Homo sapiens: one gene and its partner. The protein of the gene in region 2 purifies or fractionates together with the protein of the main gene of each other region. This does not show direct contact. Each region holds a gene or a part of one and is shown on either strand. Other genes may lie near its edges.

Region 1 (5,276 bases), on a different chromosome or scaffold from region 2:
GTCAGAATGTTGCTCAACAAAGCAACTTTCTATTTAGAACATTTTCCTCCTAAAGGAGCAAGCAATCTACTATATAATTTTTCTTCTTGTTCTGAAGTTAGGAATTTTCTGTGTGTTTGTTTTATAAAGACCCGCTTCCTTTGCCAGCCTGCTTAGATACTGGTCTTTCTTTCCTATTGTTCCTAACATTATTACAGCCCAGATATTAAATATTCAGACTATGTGTCTCAAGGGGCTTGTGGCTCTGTACTTGCATCTCACACTCTTAAGAACCTTAGGAACCACAAAACAGAACTTTGCAGCCAGAAAGAACCTGAGAGAGATCACCAACTCCAGAGGACTTTTTAAAAAATAATATATTCAATATCTATGAACCCATACCTAACCCATAAGAAAGGGAACTAAGTCCTTTTTCGGCCTCTTAAAACTGCTTTCGGTTTTATCTCTGAGCAAGATATATACTTCTTTTTATAAATGTCTGCTTAAAGCTATTTTTTTATTGTATCCTATCTGATATGTCACTTAATGAGACAACTTTTATGAATACTATACATCAAAACCTTAAAATGTTTATACTCCTTAACCCAGTAATTCTACTTCTAGGAATCCTACGGAAATAATCTGAGAGGTGCACAAAAACTAAATTACAAGAGTCTTATAGTGGCATTATTTACACTACACATCGGGCAATCCAAATGAACAGCAATAAGAGAGAAGTTGAATAAAATTATGGTACCGCCCAAGGATTATTATGCAATAATTAATTATGTTCGGAAAATGTCTTAATTACATGGAACATATGTATGAATGTAAATAAATCAGAATGCCAAATTATATATACAATATGATTTCAACTATACAAAATAAGTACATCCAGAAGAAAAAGACTAAAATGAAATATGCCAAAATGTTAGCTGTGGTTACTTCTAAGTAGCAGAATTATAACTTAATTTTAATTATTCATTTTTTTCCAAATTTTCTATACTCCTTAAAAGTGTCTATTTTTTAGTAATTAAAACATATCTGGTATCGGCTGGGTGCAGTGGCTCACACCTGTAATCCCAGCACTTTGGGAGACCGAGGCAGATGGATCACCTGAAGTCAGGAGTTTGAGAACAGCCTGACCAACATGGTGAAACCCCATCTCTACTAAAAATACAAAATTAGCCAGGCGTGGTGGTGGGCGCCTGTAATCCCAGCTACCTGGGAGGCTGGGGGAGGAGAACCGCTTGAACCCGGGAGGTGGAGGTTGCAGTAAGCAATGATCACGCCATTGCACTCCAGCCTGGACAACAAGAGCAAAACTCCATCTCAAAAAAAAATTATATATATATATTAAAAAAAGTAAGTATATATTATATATATTTATATATTATATATTATATATATAATACATATATCTGATATCAGCACAAATTCATCACTAAAGATCAGATCCTTCATGTTTAGACAGGCTGAAGCCAAGAGCTGCTTGGGGCAAATAATCCTGGTCCTTCCATTGTCCAATTAACCAAGCTCCTCCCCCTCTGAGCTGACAACAGTCTTCAAACTAGAATACCTAAATATAAGGAGCTACAGACCCTTGCTTTAAGGGATCCTCTGCCACACACCTAACAGTTGCTCAACCAGGGATGAGTACTTATGCGACTGACTACCAACTATACTAGACGCCATAGGGCACGTATCATCATGTGGCTCTTCTGGATAATAGTGATTACAAGTATGGTTTCAGAGTCACATAAATATGAGTATCATTGAGTTATATGGATTTAGAACTTTCCCTGCCCTCTCTTAAATCGCATTTTATTAATTTGGTCTTAAAATACAAATATGGGGCCAGGCACAGTGGCTCACGCCTGTAATCCCAGCACTTTGGGAGGCCAAGGCGGGAGGATCACGAGGTCAGGAGATCGAGACCATCGTGAAACCCCGTCTCTACTAAAAAAATACAAAAAATTAGCTGGGCGCGGTGGCGGGCGCCTGTAGTCCCAGCTACTCGGGAGGCTGAGGCAGGAGAATGGCATGAACCCAGAAGGAGGAGATTGCAGTGAGCCGAGATCATGCCACTGCACTCCAGCCTGGGCGACAGAGCGAGACTCCGTCTCAAAAAAAAAAAAGCCTTCATGTATTCCCCCTTTAGCTGATGAATTAGCATCTTATATGCCTTACTTTTTCCTGTTCAGTTATTTTATTTACACATTTATAACTCCTTCACTGATTTCCAAAGCCCCACCATGCACTGTACTGTATCAAGATTCAACATTACTCTTTATTCGTTCCTTATTCCACCTATGCACTTTTTGATTGTTCACAAGTCAAAATATTGATAATCATTCACACATGCATATATTCAGGCAGTCATTTACATATTGTTTGGTTTGTATACCCCACCTTATTCCCAAAAGGATTTCAGGTAGCCTACAATGAAAACATGGAACATAAATTAATGGCAAAATAGAAATAAAGAGACGACAAGGAAAGTAAGAAAGACAAGTAGATAAAGAATAGGAAAAGACAGAAGGACACACAGGGCAGACCATTAAAGGTTACATAAGGCCAGGGTGGGGGTGGCTCACACCTGTAATCCCAGCACTCTGGGAGGCCGAAGCAGGTGGATCACAAGGTCAGGAGTTCAAGACCAGCCTGGCCAAAACGGTGAAACCCCATCTCTACTAAAAATACAAAAAAATTAGCCGGACGTGGTGGCAGGCGCCTGTAACCCCAGCTATTCAGGAGACTGAGACAGAGAATTGCTTGAACCTGGGAGGTGGAGGTGGCAGTGAGCTGAGATCGTGCCACTGCACTCCAGTCTGGGTGACAGAGCGAGACTCCATCTCAAAAAATTTTAAAAAAAAAGTTACATAAAGGCATCATTTGGGCATCCATCTTGACTCTGTGCTTCCTGGAAGCCAAAATGCAAACAAAAACAAAAGTACAGAGAAGGTTTTTGGACCATTTGAGGAAAGCTCAGTAAGAGTTTTATGGCCTGTGAAAGTCTGTGTTCTAGCGGTGACTTAACGAAACAATTCTAGCTGGGTGCTGTGGCTCACACCTGTAATCCCAACACTTCGGGAGGTCGAGGTGGGAGGACTGCTTGAGCCCAGGAGTTCAAAATCAGTGTGGGTGACGTGGCGAGACCTGTCTCTACTAAAAATAAAAATAAAAATTAGCCCAGTGTGGTGGGCACGTGCCTGGAGTCGCAGCTACTCAGGAGGCTGAGGCAGGAGGATCGCTTGAACCCAGGAAGTCGAGGGTACAGTGAGCCGAGATTGCACCACTGCACTCAAGCCTGGAAACACAAAGAGATCCTCTCTCAAAAAAATAATAATAATTCTAAGACTACAAAATACCTTTTACATGATAACAACTTTTAAAAAGCCTCCAGGCATCAGGGGGGCAGGTAAGCTCAGGTTTTTCAAATTTACATAAAAATCATTGATAACTGAGAATGTGTTTTTAGCTACCAATTCCTTACCATTTCATCAGCCAAAATGCCATTGACTCCATTTTCATATAAAGAGATCAACCAATTCAGTCCTCGAATCTGATAATCTCTCAGTGGCCCCCCTTTCACATCTGGTGAAAAAATGCAAGGACATTTCATACTTTCATTAACATACTCAAGTAAAATTTTTCTAAAACTAAATTGAAAAAGAACTCACCAATGTGATGAAGTACTTACATGAAGGTGACACCTCAAATCTAATACACACATTAGATGTTTTCCGACTCTCAGACAGTAGCTCTTCATCTTCTTCTTGCTCTGTGCGCCTATGGCGGTAGCTGAAATTAAAAAAGGAAATCCCTTCATATTCGACCTAAATGATAAGGTATCAATTAAATCAGTGTACATGGCTATTATCTTTTATAGAAAAAGAATGAGTTGTCCAAGGTCTTGCTTAGAAATCAGTAGAACCAGCCTACATTTTTACTGATCAGCCTCTAGTGAGAAAAAAATATAGTTGTCTTCAAAACATAATTATAATGGCAATATTTTTTGTCACATGAAGGTATACTGAACAATGAAGAGCGAAGGGGTGCATGAAGGGATCAAGGGAGGACAGGAGGAAGAAAAGGTAGGAGAAAGGAAAGAAAGTAGAGAGAGAGGTGCCAACATACTCTCCAGCAGAAATTAAGCTCTGCTTTTCATCTTTCTTTATTCGGGGACGTCCCAATTTCATGTTCAGTGGAGATGTTGGAGATTTCTGTGCTGAAGGCTGAATGAAATGTGCAAAAAGTTCTGTCTGCTTCAGTAAAAATTCAAATCTCTTTGCTCGGTCGGCTTTCTAATTTGCAAAACAAAAGAAAAGTAAGGACTTTCCTTTTCATTCCTTCAAAGTTATTTAACAAATACTTACTTTGAACAACATTCTTAGCACTTGAAACATTAATCCATTCAATTCTCTTAAGAAACCTATGACGTAATTACAAGTATCATCTCCATTGTAACTACATGATACTGAAGCACAGAGAGGGTAAGTAATTTGCCCAACCTTGCACAGCTAATAAGCAGCAGAATTTGAAAATGTATTTTCAAATAGTTTGAAGGGAAGAAAAATTATCTGACAGACAGTAAATTCCCCAATAAGAAATACCCTTCTTAAAGAGTCATAATCATAAAGCAAATCCTCTTTCCAAAACATCATTTTATTAAATAAAATAGTAACAAAATTAAGCATCAAATATATAACATATCCCAAATATTGAAATATAAATTAACTATGATATATATACCATAAACTGAACTCTTAAGAATTTCCAAGTTGTATCCAGAAATAACTTAAATCTTAAAATACAGTATCATCTTGTCTCAAAATATTTTCAGTGTCATGGTATAGTAATGTAATAAACACTCCTCTCTTCACTCACAGGGATCTAGAAAACTGTATTTTGTGCTAGTAGCGTATAAACTTTCTCCCCAAAGTAAGCAGAATTTGGGAAAAATATATAAACATATGCACATATATGTGAAATAGTTTATTAACTATTAAAAGTTGATATGTATTCTAATTTCTCAATAAATTGTAAAAGGTCAGGGAACGTGTACCATATACAGGCAATAAAACTTTGTTTCACTAAAAAAATCTTAAAAGATCAAAAGATATATACATCATTCTAGATAAAGGAAAAAATAAAGACTATTTATTTATTCAAAGTCACTTTCCAACCACAGAGTAGAGAATACTTGATTGCTAATGAAGGATGCATAATTAATAACCCAGAAAACTTACAGAAGAGTTCATTAACATAAACATAAGAGTTAGATAAATTCAGAC
Region 2 (5,276 bases):
AGAGCAGCATTGCTCACAATCTCTATAAGGCAGCCACAGCCCAGATGTCCACCAAGAGATAGAAACAAAACGTAGCTACCCACGCAATGGAGTATTACAGAGCCATAAAAAGGAATGAAGCACGAGGGAAATACAGAGGCAGAAAGCAGTTGACTGGATGTCAGGGGCTCGGGGCAGGGGAATGGGCAGTGGCTGCTGATGGGGATGGGGTCTCCTTTTGGAAAGATGAAATGTTCTGGAACTAGACAGAGGTGGTGGTTGCACAATATTGTGAATGTACCAAATGTTACCAAACTGTACACTTCAAAATGGTTAATTTTACGTTATGCGAATTTTGTCTCAATTAAGAAAAAACAGGATAGGTTTGCTGTGCTGACCACGGGCCCCCTCCCGAGCGGGGAGTGAAATGATGGTAGAGCCATTTCCGCCGTCCTCAGGGCCGGCCCCACCCCGGCCCGGCTCACCTGCCGCGCAATGTTCTGCACCAGCTTGTCCATGGTGAAGCCCACGTAGGCATGGATGGTGAACATCTCGCGTAGGGTGTCCTCGTACTGCGTGGGGTCGATGCTGCCCTCCAGCAGGCTCCGCACCATGTCCAGGAAGGCCGGGTAGTACTCCTCCAGCTCCACTTCACCTGCGGAGACACACCGCCTCATCCATATGCCTCCTGGAGAGCGCAAAGTCACGCAGGCCAAACTCTGGCATGACAGAGCCCCAACAAATGCCCCCATGGGGCCCAACAGCCCTCACCTGCCACCCCTGGGGCAAATGTGGGAATCACCAGGAAACCCGAGTAGCTGGTGTTCACTGCCACCCTCCGAGGCTGCCTAATCTGGCCGGCAACCCAGGGATGGCAGCGAGAATGCTGTGGAGGCCAGGCATGGTGGCCCATGCCTGTAATCCCAGCACTTGGGGAGGCTGAGGCAGGCGGATCACCTGAGTTCAGGAGTTTGAGACCAGGTTGGCCAACATGGTGAAATCCTGTCTCTATTAAAAATACAAAAAATTGGGCTGGGCGCGGTGGCTCATGCCTGTAATCCCATCACTTTGGAAGCCCGAGGCAGGTGGATCACAAGGTCAGGAGTTTTAAGACCAGCCTGGTCAAGATGGTGAAACCTCGTCTCCACTAAAAATACAAAAAAAAAATAACCGGACATGGTGGTGGGTGCCTGTAATCCCAGCTACTCAGAGGCTGAGGCAGAGAATTGCTTGAACCTGGGAGGCGGAGGCTGCAGTGAGCCGAGATCATGCCACTGTGCTCCAGGCTGGGCAATAGAGCAAGACTCCATTTCAAAAAAGAAATACAAAAAATGAGCCAGGCATGGTGGTGAGCGCCTGTAATCCCAGCTACTTGGGAGGCTAAGGCAGGAGAATCACTTGAACCTGGGAAGTGGAGGTTGCAGTGGGCCGAGATCCTGCCACTATACTCCAGCCTGCGCAACAGCGCAAGACTCCATCTCAAAAAAAAAAAAAAAGAAAGAAAAAGGGTACTGTGGAGCTGGGCCATGACGGCTCCACGAGAAAGCCCATGAGAAACAAATGTTCCCCAGTCAGGAGAGGGTGCTACACCCAGGACAGGTGCCACGGCCAGGGGAGCCTGGGCGAGGGGTACGTGAGACCTCTGTCTTATGCTGGCAACTTCCTGTTTGCAATTTCCCATTTGAAATCACAGAATTCTCTTAAAATGAAAAGCCAGAAAGAAAAGTAACAGGACATGTCAGATCATGAGCTGTGACCCCTAACCCCAGGCACCCCCCGGGGCCTCCCGGCAGGCTTTGGAGCCTTACTGGGCTGCTTCAGCCGCAGCTCCATGGCGGGGTCGCTGCCCTTCTCCCTGCGGCCCTCACACAGCAGCTTCTCCCGCTCCTTCTCGGTCCGATACTCCAGAAGCTGCTTCTGCGCCTGGCGGTAGATCTTCAGCAGCCTGGAGCACAGGGTCTGGTGCAGGCGCAGGAAGAAGTACCAGTTGTTGTTGGCAAAAAATAGGCTGTAGACATCGTCCAGGGGCTTGTGCGGGGCTGGGGGCGGCAGGGGTGGCTGCTCAGTGGCCGGGGCATCCCCGAAGGCCCCCTTCTCCTCTGGGGGGCTACTGTGGGGTCCTGGCGCCGGCTTCTTCCGCTCACTGGGGTCTGTGGTCTGCCCCTGGGGGCTGTCCCGGTCCTCATCAGCTGACTCCTCGGAGGCGCCCAGGTCCAGCTGCTGAGAGAAGAAGAGGCTGGGCACGAACTGGTGCAGCAGCTGGTGGATGGTGCCCTGGTCCTCCTTCTGGATGGCCGGCTGCCGCTTCACGTAGTAGCTGATGAGCGCTGCTGCGTCCTCCAGGATCTGCCGGTCCTCGTACACAAAGATGAGGTGCGGCTCGCTAGAGGGGGCACTGCGGCCCTCCGAGTGCTGCTCCTGGTGCTGTGGGGGGAAGGGCGGCCATTAGGTGGAAAGCCACCCAGCACCCAGAGGACCCCCAGTGCCCATTCACGACTCGCTGTTAACTGGGCCACCAAGGTGGATGAGCGCTGCCCAGAGCAGGATGGGTGGCGAACATCGGTGAGGCAGCAGGGCCTGGGGGGTAGGTCGCTTGCCTCAACCTCTTGTGCAGCCCCATGTGCTCCTGGTCCCCTCTCCGAAAGTGAGGCAGACCCAAGTCATCCCGGGACCCCAGACAAAGGAGCCAAGAGGATTCTGAGATGTGGGGCGGGGTTCACAGGGGGTCTGACAGCGTCAAGCCTGGGTCTGTCGCTCAGCCCAGCTCCAGGACAGAACGGGGCCCCGTGGCTCAGCATGGAGAAGCCTCTGAGGCTGACCTCCTCCTACTGAAAGCAACGGTGGCGCCTGATTCCAGCTCGACCGGGGCTGCCCACACCATGCTATCGATGAAGTCAAGGAGGCAAAGGGTGAGCCGTGACCTCTCTGCCTCTGCCCTCCATCTACTACCCGGAAGGCCTGCAACTGCTCACATCTGAAGACCTGCACGCCCATCGTCACCAAGCCCCCGCCTCCGCTGCTGTCCCCGCCAGCCCCTGCACGTGCTTGCTACCACCATCATGTCACCAGCCCTCCCACCAGCTCCCACCAGCCTGCTCCAACCACTCTCCTCACTGGGTCCAGGGTGACTTGGCCCACAGGAGCATGGTCACCCCAACTAATGCCCTTCAGGCTTTCCCAGGCTGCTCAGAAGACGCCGGCCCCTGATGTGCCCCTCCACAGCTCCTCCAGCCTCACCGCGCCAAGCTCCCTCCTGCGTGTGCAGGGCCTTTGCACATGCCCATCTGCTCTCACTCCCTGGAAAACCCTGTCCCAGGCTCACCCCTCCCCTTGGTCTTTATCTAGATCATGACTTTCATTCCCTCACACCATTAGACAATCACCCCTTCCTCCAGCCTCCCACACCACTGTCCTGGCACCCAGGGCCTCTGCTGGGCAGCCCCAACCCCCTCAGTCCAAGGCAGGGAGGCAGACGCAGCAGGGCTCTTGGGGAAAATGAGCGTGGATGCCATCTCTGCAGGCTCCCGAGGGAAGGACCGGGTCTCCTAGCAGCCTGAGGTTTCCCTTCCTCCTCCCCTGCAAGGCGGCTTAGAGGCTGGTAGGGCCAAGCACACTGACCTGGTTCCTAGGAGTCTGCACGCTCAGCCCTGCTCTGGGCTCTTCAGTGTGACCATCGCCCTCTGACTGCTTCCTAAGTCCCCCAGGTCTCATTTATGCCATAAACACTCTGAAAATTCCTTTACAGTCCCCTCTGAAGCAGGGTCCCCATGTCCATGATCTGTAACCATGCTTTGTAAATCACGTGATGGAATGGGGTTCTGACTTTGGAATTCATCAAGGACCTGCATGTGCAGAGATCTGCATATGAACCTTGGTGCCCCTCCCTTTGTCAGCCCCAGCCCCAGGGAGGGATCCAGGAACTCAGGGTCGCATTGGTGGATTTCCAGGGCTACTTCATCATCTGCACTTTGCAGACACCACAGACCCACAGAACCTATACGGGGTCTTGGGCTTGAGGATCGCCGAGGACTAGAGTGAGGAAGCCAGAGTGGTTGTGGGTGGGCCTGGGGCGAGGGTGGCCCACGGGAAGGGAGGTGGGAGGGAAGGGGGTCCCCACAGTCCCACAGGCTCTGGGAGAGGCCTTGGGCCAGCAGCCCGGCTCCTGTGGATTCCGTTTCTGTGTTGTAAAAGAAGGAGCGACCGCTCACTGTGCAGTGACAGGAGCAAGAAACCAAATCAGGTGAGGCAACACCCCCTGCCCAGGTGGGCACCAGGCTGATAACGCAGCCCGTGCCATGATCTGGGCACTGCCTGGGGAGTAGTGTGCCCTCCTAAGCCACCTCCTCAGAGTGTCCAAGGACCTTCCCGACAGCTGGCTATCACCACGCCCGGCACCCTGCCAAGCTTCCCACCTCAGGATCCTGCAAGCAGGCACTCCCTACACACAGCTACTAACAGGCCCAGCTCCTGGCAACCTGAGGGCCCCGCTGGCCTTGGTTCTATGACTCAGGCCTTGTGAGCCTGCAGTGAGGACATGCAGCCGAAAGCCTCGAACCCAATGACTCAGAGCCCTGGCCCCCTGCGACCAGCCCAGGCAAATGCAACCTCTTGTGCCTCAGTTTCCCCACTGGTAAAATCAGAATAATGCCGCAGCAGAGTCAGGTTCAGGAGTGAGGTCAGATGATGCATTACTCTTTCTGTGTTGCTAACACCGGTGCCTGGCACAGTCGGCAAGAAAGAAATGAAGGCTGCTGCCACCCACTACCTAAGCCAAAGTCCATCACTGCCCCACGGGAGGGACGGAGACTTCGCTAGACAATGGCAGAGTCGGCCAGGAGCGGTGGCTTACGCATGTAATCCCAGCACTTTGGGAGGCTGAGGTGGGTGGATCACGAGGTCAGGAGTTCAAGACCAGCCTGGCCAACATGGTGAAAACCCATCTCTACTAAAAATATAAAAATTAGCTGGGTGTGGTGGTGTGCGCCTGTAGTCCCAGCCACTCAGGAGGCTGAGGCAGAAGAATCACTTGAACCCAGGAGGCTGAGGTTACAGTGAGCTGAGATCACACCACTGCACTCCAGCCTGTGTAACACAGCGAGACTCTGTCTCCAAACAAACAAACAGATAGACAATGGCAGAGTTGCTGGTTCTCCTAGGGCAGGCCACAGGCTGGGCATCACAGAGACATGAACCCTCGCCTCAACACAGCCCTGAAAGGGCAATGCCACTACCCTGCCTAACCACCAGGGAAACAGAGGCACAGACCCGGCGGTCGGGAGAGCCAGGACCCCACCCCC

Evidence for each region. Proteins that work in one complex are often made in the same cells at the same time.
Region 1: the proteins of SIN3B (region 2) and SMARCA1 purify together in Homo sapiens (affinity purification with mass spectrometry, with the first as the bait; one large-scale study listed by BioGRID). This does not show direct contact.

Annotation. Positions count from the first base shown.
Region 1 is NC_000023.11:129,512,212-129,517,487, forward strand, and holds part of SMARCA1 (SWI/SNF-related matrix-associated actin-dependent regulator of chromatin subfamily A member 1), read right to left. Parts: intron 4,287-5,276; coding exon 4,120-4,286; intron 3,784-4,119; coding exon 3,683-3,783; intron 3,577-3,682; coding exon 3,476-3,576; intron 1-3,475.
Region 2 is NC_000019.10:16,866,587-16,871,862, reverse strand, and holds part of SIN3B (paired amphipathic helix protein Sin3b), read right to left. Parts: intron 2,404-5,276; coding exon 1,788-2,403; intron 635-1,787; coding exon 465-634; intron 1-464.